Linked DNA regions of Homo sapiens. The protein of the gene in region 1 purifies or fractionates together with the protein of each later gene. This does not show direct contact. Each region holds a gene or a part of one and is shown on either strand. Other genes may lie near its edges.

What was found. The genes of interacting proteins can lie anywhere in the genome.
Region 2: the proteins of TOP2A (region 1) and ZNF451 purify together in Homo sapiens (affinity purification with mass spectrometry; 3 studies listed by BioGRID and IntAct, with this or other methods). This does not show direct contact.

The regions. Positions count from the first base shown.
Region 1 is NC_000017.11:40,397,164-40,400,915, reverse strand, and holds part of TOP2A (DNA topoisomerase 2-alpha), read left to right. Parts: coding exon 1-66; intron 67-252; coding exon 253-387; intron 388-506; coding exon 507-707; intron 708-848; coding exon 849-1,044; intron 1,045-1,784; coding exon 1,785-1,876; intron 1,877-1,978; coding exon 1,979-2,143; intron 2,144-2,274; coding exon 2,275-2,358; intron 2,359-3,752. UniProt on the Homo sapiens protein: Key decatenating enzyme that alters DNA topology by binding to two double-stranded DNA molecules, generating a double-stranded break in one of the strands, passing the intact strand through the broken strand, and religating the broken strand.
Region 2 is NC_000006.12:57,142,078-57,145,829, reverse strand, and holds part of ZNF451 (E3 SUMO-protein ligase ZNF451), read right to left. Parts: coding exon 3,735-3,752; intron 1-3,734. UniProt on the Homo sapiens protein: E3 SUMO-protein ligase; has a preference for SUMO2 and SUMO3 and facilitates UBE2I/UBC9-mediated sumoylation of target proteins. Plays a role in protein SUMO2 modification in response to stress caused by DNA damage and by proteasome inhibitors (in vitro).

The DNA of each region.
Region 1 (3,752 bases):
TTTGATGTGCGTGAAATTGTAAATAACATCAGGCGTTTGATGGATGGAGAAGAACCTTTGCCAATGGTAAGTATTCTGTGTGTGTTAAGAGCCTTAACTTTTCCTTGGGTTTCAGTTGAATAGATTGTATGATTAAAGATGATGCAAACATAAAATTTAATTTCATACTTTAGATTTATTGTTAAACGCTGTTGTGATTTCCGTCTAGTATCACATTTAGAAAACATACTGTTTTTTTAAATGCCAATTTAGCTTCCAAGTTACAAGAACTTCAAGGGTACTATTGAAGAACTGGCTCCAAATCAATATGTGATTAGTGGTGAAGTAGCTATTCTTAATTCTACAACCATTGAAATCTCAGAGCTTCCCGTCAGAACATGGACCCAGGTAAATAATTATGGATTTCTTTTTTAGGTTTGTGATCAAAAGAAATACCTTTTGTACTATTGCTGTTGACTATTCAGAAGCCTATATTTTAGAAACTTCAGGATTATTTCTTTCTTTAGACATACAAAGAACAAGTTCTAGAACCCATGTTGAATGGCACCGAGAAGACACCTCCTCTCATAACAGACTATAGGGAATACCATACAGATACCACTGTGAAATTTGTTGTGAAGATGACTGAAGAAAAACTGGCAGAGGCAGAGAGAGTTGGACTACACAAAGTCTTCAAACTCCAAACTAGTCTCACATGCAACTCTATGGTATGTATTTGTTTTGTGAGATGTACACGTTTCAATTTATATTAAAGATTAATATCAATTTTAAAAGTATATCTTAGTCTACCTTTATAAAGTTTAGCCAATTTGTCTATTCTTGGCTCTAATCTTGTTTTCCTTTTTCAGGTGCTTTTTGACCACGTAGGCTGTTTAAAGAAATATGACACGGTGTTGGATATTCTAAGAGACTTTTTTGAACTCAGACTTAAATATTATGGATTAAGAAAAGAATGGCTCCTAGGAATGCTTGGTGCTGAATCTGCTAAACTGAATAATCAGGCTCGCTTTATCTTAGAGAAAATAGATGGCAAAATAATCATTGGTATGTTTTGGGAATAATAACTGCTTACTAAAACTCTAGTTACGCCAAACTTTCTTTAAACATTTTTGGTGAGAGTAATGGTGGAGAAAGAGGCAAAATCCATTTAATTCACCTGGTCACTTATACACGCATTTCTTTAAAATATCTGATTAGGTATTTATAGTTTGAAAGAGATGATGTTTCCTTGACTGAGCATCTTGAGAAATCAAGATTTAGTTGACAATTAGACATGAGGAGAATAGAGAGCTAGAAGACCTTGCATAAACTGATTGACCAAGAGAATAGATACACTAATCATGTCTACAGGAACAGAAAATAAAAGAGACAGAGAAGAGATAATAAATCTGATGGTAAAAAAAAAAAAAGGCAGGAAGATTACGAATGGCTTCTACTCTCTGGGTGTGGTGGCGCATGCCTGTAATCTCAGCACTTGAGCTGGGGAGGTCAAGGCTGCAGTGAGCCTAGGTAGTGCCACTGCACTCCAGCCTGGACACAAGAGTGAGAGAGACCCTGTCTCCAAAAAAAAATGATTTGATCATATATGATTTGACTGCCCCCTTGTGGTAATTTACATTTGTCAATGGTTTAGGGAGACTTGCCTGTATACCGGGATATACAAATTTATGCAAGCACGAAGACAGTTTAATTTCCAGTTTTAAACTTTTGACTTGTGTAAAACCTTATCCCCTTCCTAAAATATTACTCAAAATCATTATCTCTGTTTACTTTTTTAAAAATAGAAAATAAGCCTAAGAAAGAATTAATTAAAGTTCTGATTCAGAGGGGATATGATTCGGATCCTGTGAAGGCCTGGAAAGAAGCCCAGCAAAAGGTAATCTTGGGTGGCACTTTTCTATATTGTTAAAGACTATGTATTGTACAATGTTTATGTTTCACATTTTCTAATAAAGCTAGATTTTAATTAATCCTTTAGGTTCCAGATGAAGAAGAAAATGAAGAGAGTGACAACGAAAAGGAAACTGAAAAGAGTGACTCCGTAACAGATTCTGGACCAACCTTCAACTATCTTCTTGATATGCCCCTTTGGTATTTAACCAAGGAAAAGAAAGATGAACTCTGCAGGCTAAGAAATGAAAAAGTGAGTTGATAGTAGGATGGTACATGCTGCTTAGTTTTGTTCTATTCTAATGGTAAAAGTAAAATTGTGTGTTGCATGAAAATGCTGCTTGTATACATATATTAACTCAATTTTGTAATTATCTTATGAAGGAACAAGAGCTGGACACATTAAAAAGAAAGAGTCCATCAGATTTGTGGAAAGAAGACTTGGCTACATTTATTGAAGAATTGGAGGTATGTAGTTTATAATGCCCATGTTAGAATTTTTATTAATGAAATAATATATTCCAGCAGTATACCTTTGTCAAGATAGTTCACAATTGGCAATAAAAAGAAAATAAGAGGCATAAGGATAAATTCCAAATAGCGTATAAAAGAACAGATTATTGGCCAGGTGCAGTGGCTCACGCTGGTAATCCCAGCATTTTGGAAGGCTGAGTTGGGTGGATCACTTGAGGTCAGGGGTTCAAGACCAGCCTGGCCAACATGGTAAAACCCCATTTCTACTAAAAACACAAAAATTAGCCAGGCATGATGGTGCATACCAGTTACTCAGGAGGCTGAGGCAGGAGAATTGCTTGAACCGAGAGGCAGAGGTTGCAGTGAACCGAGATCACACCACTGCACTCCAGCCTAGGCAACACAGCAAGACTCCGTCTCAAAAAAAAAAAAAAAAAAAAAGGGACAGATTATTAAATACTACTTAGAATACAAGGCCGGGTGCGGTGGCTCACACCTACAATCCCAGCACTTTGGGAGGCCGAAGCAGGCAGATCACCTGAGGTTGGGAGTTCGAGACCAGCCTGACCAACATGGAGAAACCCTGTCTCTACTAAAATTGCAAAATTAGCCAGGCGTAGTGGCACATGCCTGTAATCCCAGCTACTTGGGAGGCTGAGGCAGGAGAATCACTTGAACTCGGGAGGCAGATGTTGCTGTGAGCTAAGATCACACCATTGCACTCCAGCCTGGGCAACAAGAGTGGAACTCCGTCTCAAAAAAAAAAAAAAAAATACTATTTAGAATACAGTAAATGATACCAGGAGACTGCCCAGACATTCAGACATTTCTGGACAAAAAAAGAAAAGAGCAGGAGTTGATTTTTGATAAAGGGAAGAACATATTAGGACTGAGAAGATAAAAAGAGCCTAAATGTGGAAGAAGACCACCAACCCAGTCCCCCAAGTCAACTTAAAAGGACAAAGCCACAGGGCATGGTGGCTCATGCCTGTAATCCCAGCACTCTGGGAGGCTGAGGTGGGCAGATCACTTGAGGTCAGGAGTTCGAGACCAGCCTGGACAACATGGTGAAACCCTGTCTCTACTAAAAATACAAAAATTAGTTGGGTGTGGTGGCATCCGCCTGTAATCCCAGCTACTCAGGAGGTTGAGGCAAGAAAATTGCTTGAACCCAGAAGGCAGAAGTTGCAGTGAGCCGAGATTGCGCCACTGTACTCCAGCCTGGGTGACAGAGCAAGACTCCATCTAAAAAAAAAAAAAAAAAAAGGAGAAAGCAGGGCTATCCAGATGGTTTCAGAAGGTTATTTGTTACTTAAATCTTCCTAATAACATTTGTTTCTCAACATTATTTTAACATAAGAAAAAAGGCCAGCACTGTGGCTCACACC
Region 2 (3,752 bases), on another chromosome or scaffold:
GCAGTCCCACTACTGGTATCTACCTTAAGAAAAAGTAAGCATTATATCAAAAAGACACCTACACTTGTACATTTACCGCAGCACTATTGACAATAGCGATAATGAATGGAATCAACCTAAGTGTCCATCAATGGATTATTGAATAAAGAAAATATGGTATATATACCATGGAATACTACTGAGTCATAAAAAAGAATGAAATCATGCCTTTTGAAGCAACATGTATGGAACTGGAGGCCATTATCCTAAGTGAAATAACTCAGAATGTCAAATACTGCAAATTTTCATTTCTAAGTGGGAGTTAAACAATGGGTACACGTGGACATATAGAGTGGAATAATAAACAGATATTGAAAACTCCAAAAGGTGGGAGGTTGGGAAATGGGTGAGGGTTGGAAAATAACCTATTGGGTACAATGTTCACTATTTGGATGATAGTGACATTAAAAGCCCAGATATCTGAGCTTCACAATATACCCATGTAACAAAACTGCACTCGTACCCCCTGAATCTATAAGAAATAAAAATAAAGAACTGATTAATTTTATGTCAGACAAATGTCATGCCCCTAGTTGCTTTTGCACTGAAGAACTAGGCTCAATAAAACCACATACTATTCCACAAATTAACTCAAAATAAATCAACTTCCCTAGGAAAATAAAAAAATAGAACAACTGTGTCTTCACTACTAAACTCCAGAGAGAACAGACCTGCTACCATTTTATACATTTAATATATTTCAAAAGAAAAAAACTGTACAAAATATGTTCTCTAATTATTGTGGAATTAAATTGGAAACAAAAAATAATACAAATCCCTAAATGTTTATAAATTAAATACCTAAATGTAACATCTATAAACCTTTAGAAGTTAAGCCACACATATCTTTTTTGTGTGTTTGGAGACAGAAAATCCTTCTGTCACCCAGGCTGGAGTGCAGTGGCACAATCTTGGATCACTGCAACCTCTGCCTCCCAGGTTCAAGCGATTCTCTTGCCTCAGCCACCAAGTAGCTGGGATTACAGGCGCTCACCACCACACCCGGTTAATTTTTTGTATTTTTAGTAGAGATGGGGTTTCGCCATGTTAGCCAGGCTGGTCTCGAACTCCTGAGCTCAGGCAATCCACCTGCCTAAGCCTCCCAAAGTGTTAGGATTACAGGTGTGAGCCACCACGCCCAGCCAAGCAACACATTTCTAATAAACCTATAGGTCAAACAATAAATCAAAAGGGCAAAGATAACATTTTTCCAAAACATTTTTAAACAGCTTTATTGAGATATAATTCACGGCTAGGCGCGGTGGCACATGCCTGTAATCCCAGCACTTTGGGAGGCTGAGGCGGACAGATCACTTGAGGTCAGGAGTTCAAGACCATCCTGGCCAACATGGTGAAACCCCGTCTCTACAAAAAATACAAAACTCAGCCAGGTATGGTGGCACACACCTATAGTCCCAGGTACTTGGGAGGCTGAGGCACGAGAATCACTTGAACTTGGGAGGTGGAGGTTGCAGTGAGCCGAGATTGCACCATTGCACTCCAGCCTAGGTGACAGACAGAGACCCTATCTTTAAAAAAAAAAAAAAAAAAAAAAAGGATATAATTCATAATTCATATACCATATAATTCATCCATTTAGGGTATATAATTTCAACTATTTTTCACATAAAGATATGTGCAACCATCAATAGTTAATTTTAGAACATTGTGTTATGTCAAAAAGAAAACCCATGCCCTTTAGCTATCACCTCCCCACCTCCCTTTTCGCCATGCTCCCCAACTCCAAGCAACCACTGAACCCTAAGCAACTACTTTCTGTGTCTACAGATTTCCCTATTCTGGAATTTCATGTGAATGGAATCATATAAATGGACTTTTTGTGACTAGCTTATTTCATTTAGCATAATGTTTTCAAAGTTCATTGAGGTTGTAACATGTAATCAGGATTTCAATCCTTTTCATGGCCAAATAATATTCCCTTGTATGGATATGTCCAGTTAAAAAAATCCATTTGTCAGCTGATAGACATTTGGGATGTTCCCATTTTTTTACTATTATGAATAATGCTGCTATAAACAAACATACAAGTATTTGTGAACAAGAGCAAGTTCACTTTGCTCTTGGCTGTCAACAAGCAGAAATTGCTGGATCATATGGTAACTCTATGGTTAAATGAGGAAAAAAGAGATACGTATTTTTAACTGAATAAAAATGAAAACACAACTTATCAACATCTGTGGCATGCAGGTAAAGCAGTGCTTAGTGGGAAATTTATATTTTTAAATGTTTATATTGAAAACAAAGATCCAAAGTCAATCTAAACTTCTACCTTTAAGAGCTAGACAAAGATAAGCAAATTAAACTCAAAGTTTAAAGAGCAGAAATCAATGAACTAGAAAATGGGCAAACAACAGAGAATTGCCAGGGAAACCAGACAATGGTTGTTGTAAAAATCAACAAAAATTTGAAATAGATTATAGAAATAAACATAAATATTTAAAAATATCAAAGCTGAATTTAGGGAAATAAAATACATTCTTTAAGCAAGAAGAGGCAAGGGTTTCTCAGGACACAGAAAGCATAACCATAAAAGAAGAAAATAATCAACAAATTATACACCTAATGCAAAGAAAAGCTTCTGTTCATCAAAAGGTATAATTAAAAATATGAATATGCAAAATCACAGGAAAATATACTCATAAATATTTGTATATTCTAGAAATTCCTGTATTCTAGATACGAATCTGACAAAAGATTTGTATCTAGAATATATAAAGAACCCCAACTCACTATTAAGAAGGCAAACAATCCAATTTTGAAGACTGGCAAAAGACTTGAACAGAGATTTCACAAAGATAAACAAATAGCCCATAAACACAAGAAAGTGCCCAACATCATTGTTTATCAAGAAAATGCACATAATAAACTAAAATGAGACACAAGAATAGCTAAAATGAAAAAGAGTGGCAATATCAAATGTTAGCAAGGGTGAAGAGTAACTAGAACTTTCATACCTTACCTGTAGGAATGAAACTAATACGACCAACTTTGGATATTTAGTAGGTTCTCATAAAGTTAAATATAAACCTACTTCTGAACCAACAATTCCACTTTTCAATGTCCATCCAAGAGAAATGAAAACATATGACCATGAAAAGACCTGTGCAAAGTATTCAAAGCAGCTTTATTCATAAAAGCTATAAATTGTAAACAACCCAACTATCTATCAACAAGGGAATGGATCAACAAATTGTGCTATATTCACACAATACTACTTACCAATAAGAAGGAACAATGTACTAAACAATATAGATAAATCTCACAGATACTATGGCAATCACAAATCATACTGGACTCTTTCTTGGTTACTTGATAAATTTGGCCTTTCATTGAGATTTAATCTTTCAAATGTATATGATACTTTCCATTCTGGTTGACTTAAAGCCAAGGTTCTACTTTAACCCTTTCCTCTCCTACTCATACTTACAGAACACACACAGAAGAACATACACAAAACTTAGAACTGTTAGCTTGCTTTACACTTGCAGAATATCAATATATCCACGTTTTCCACAACTCTAACTTCTCTCACTATGTTAAATTTGGCTAATTTCCAGGCAACTGTATATTCTCATTTTAAAAGGAGAGAAACATGGAAAGAAAATGTATTTGTTGAATCTTCTCACTGGCAAACACTCATCCGTATTCCTTTACAGCTCCAGACCAATACAAACCTGAAATGGGCAGTGAGC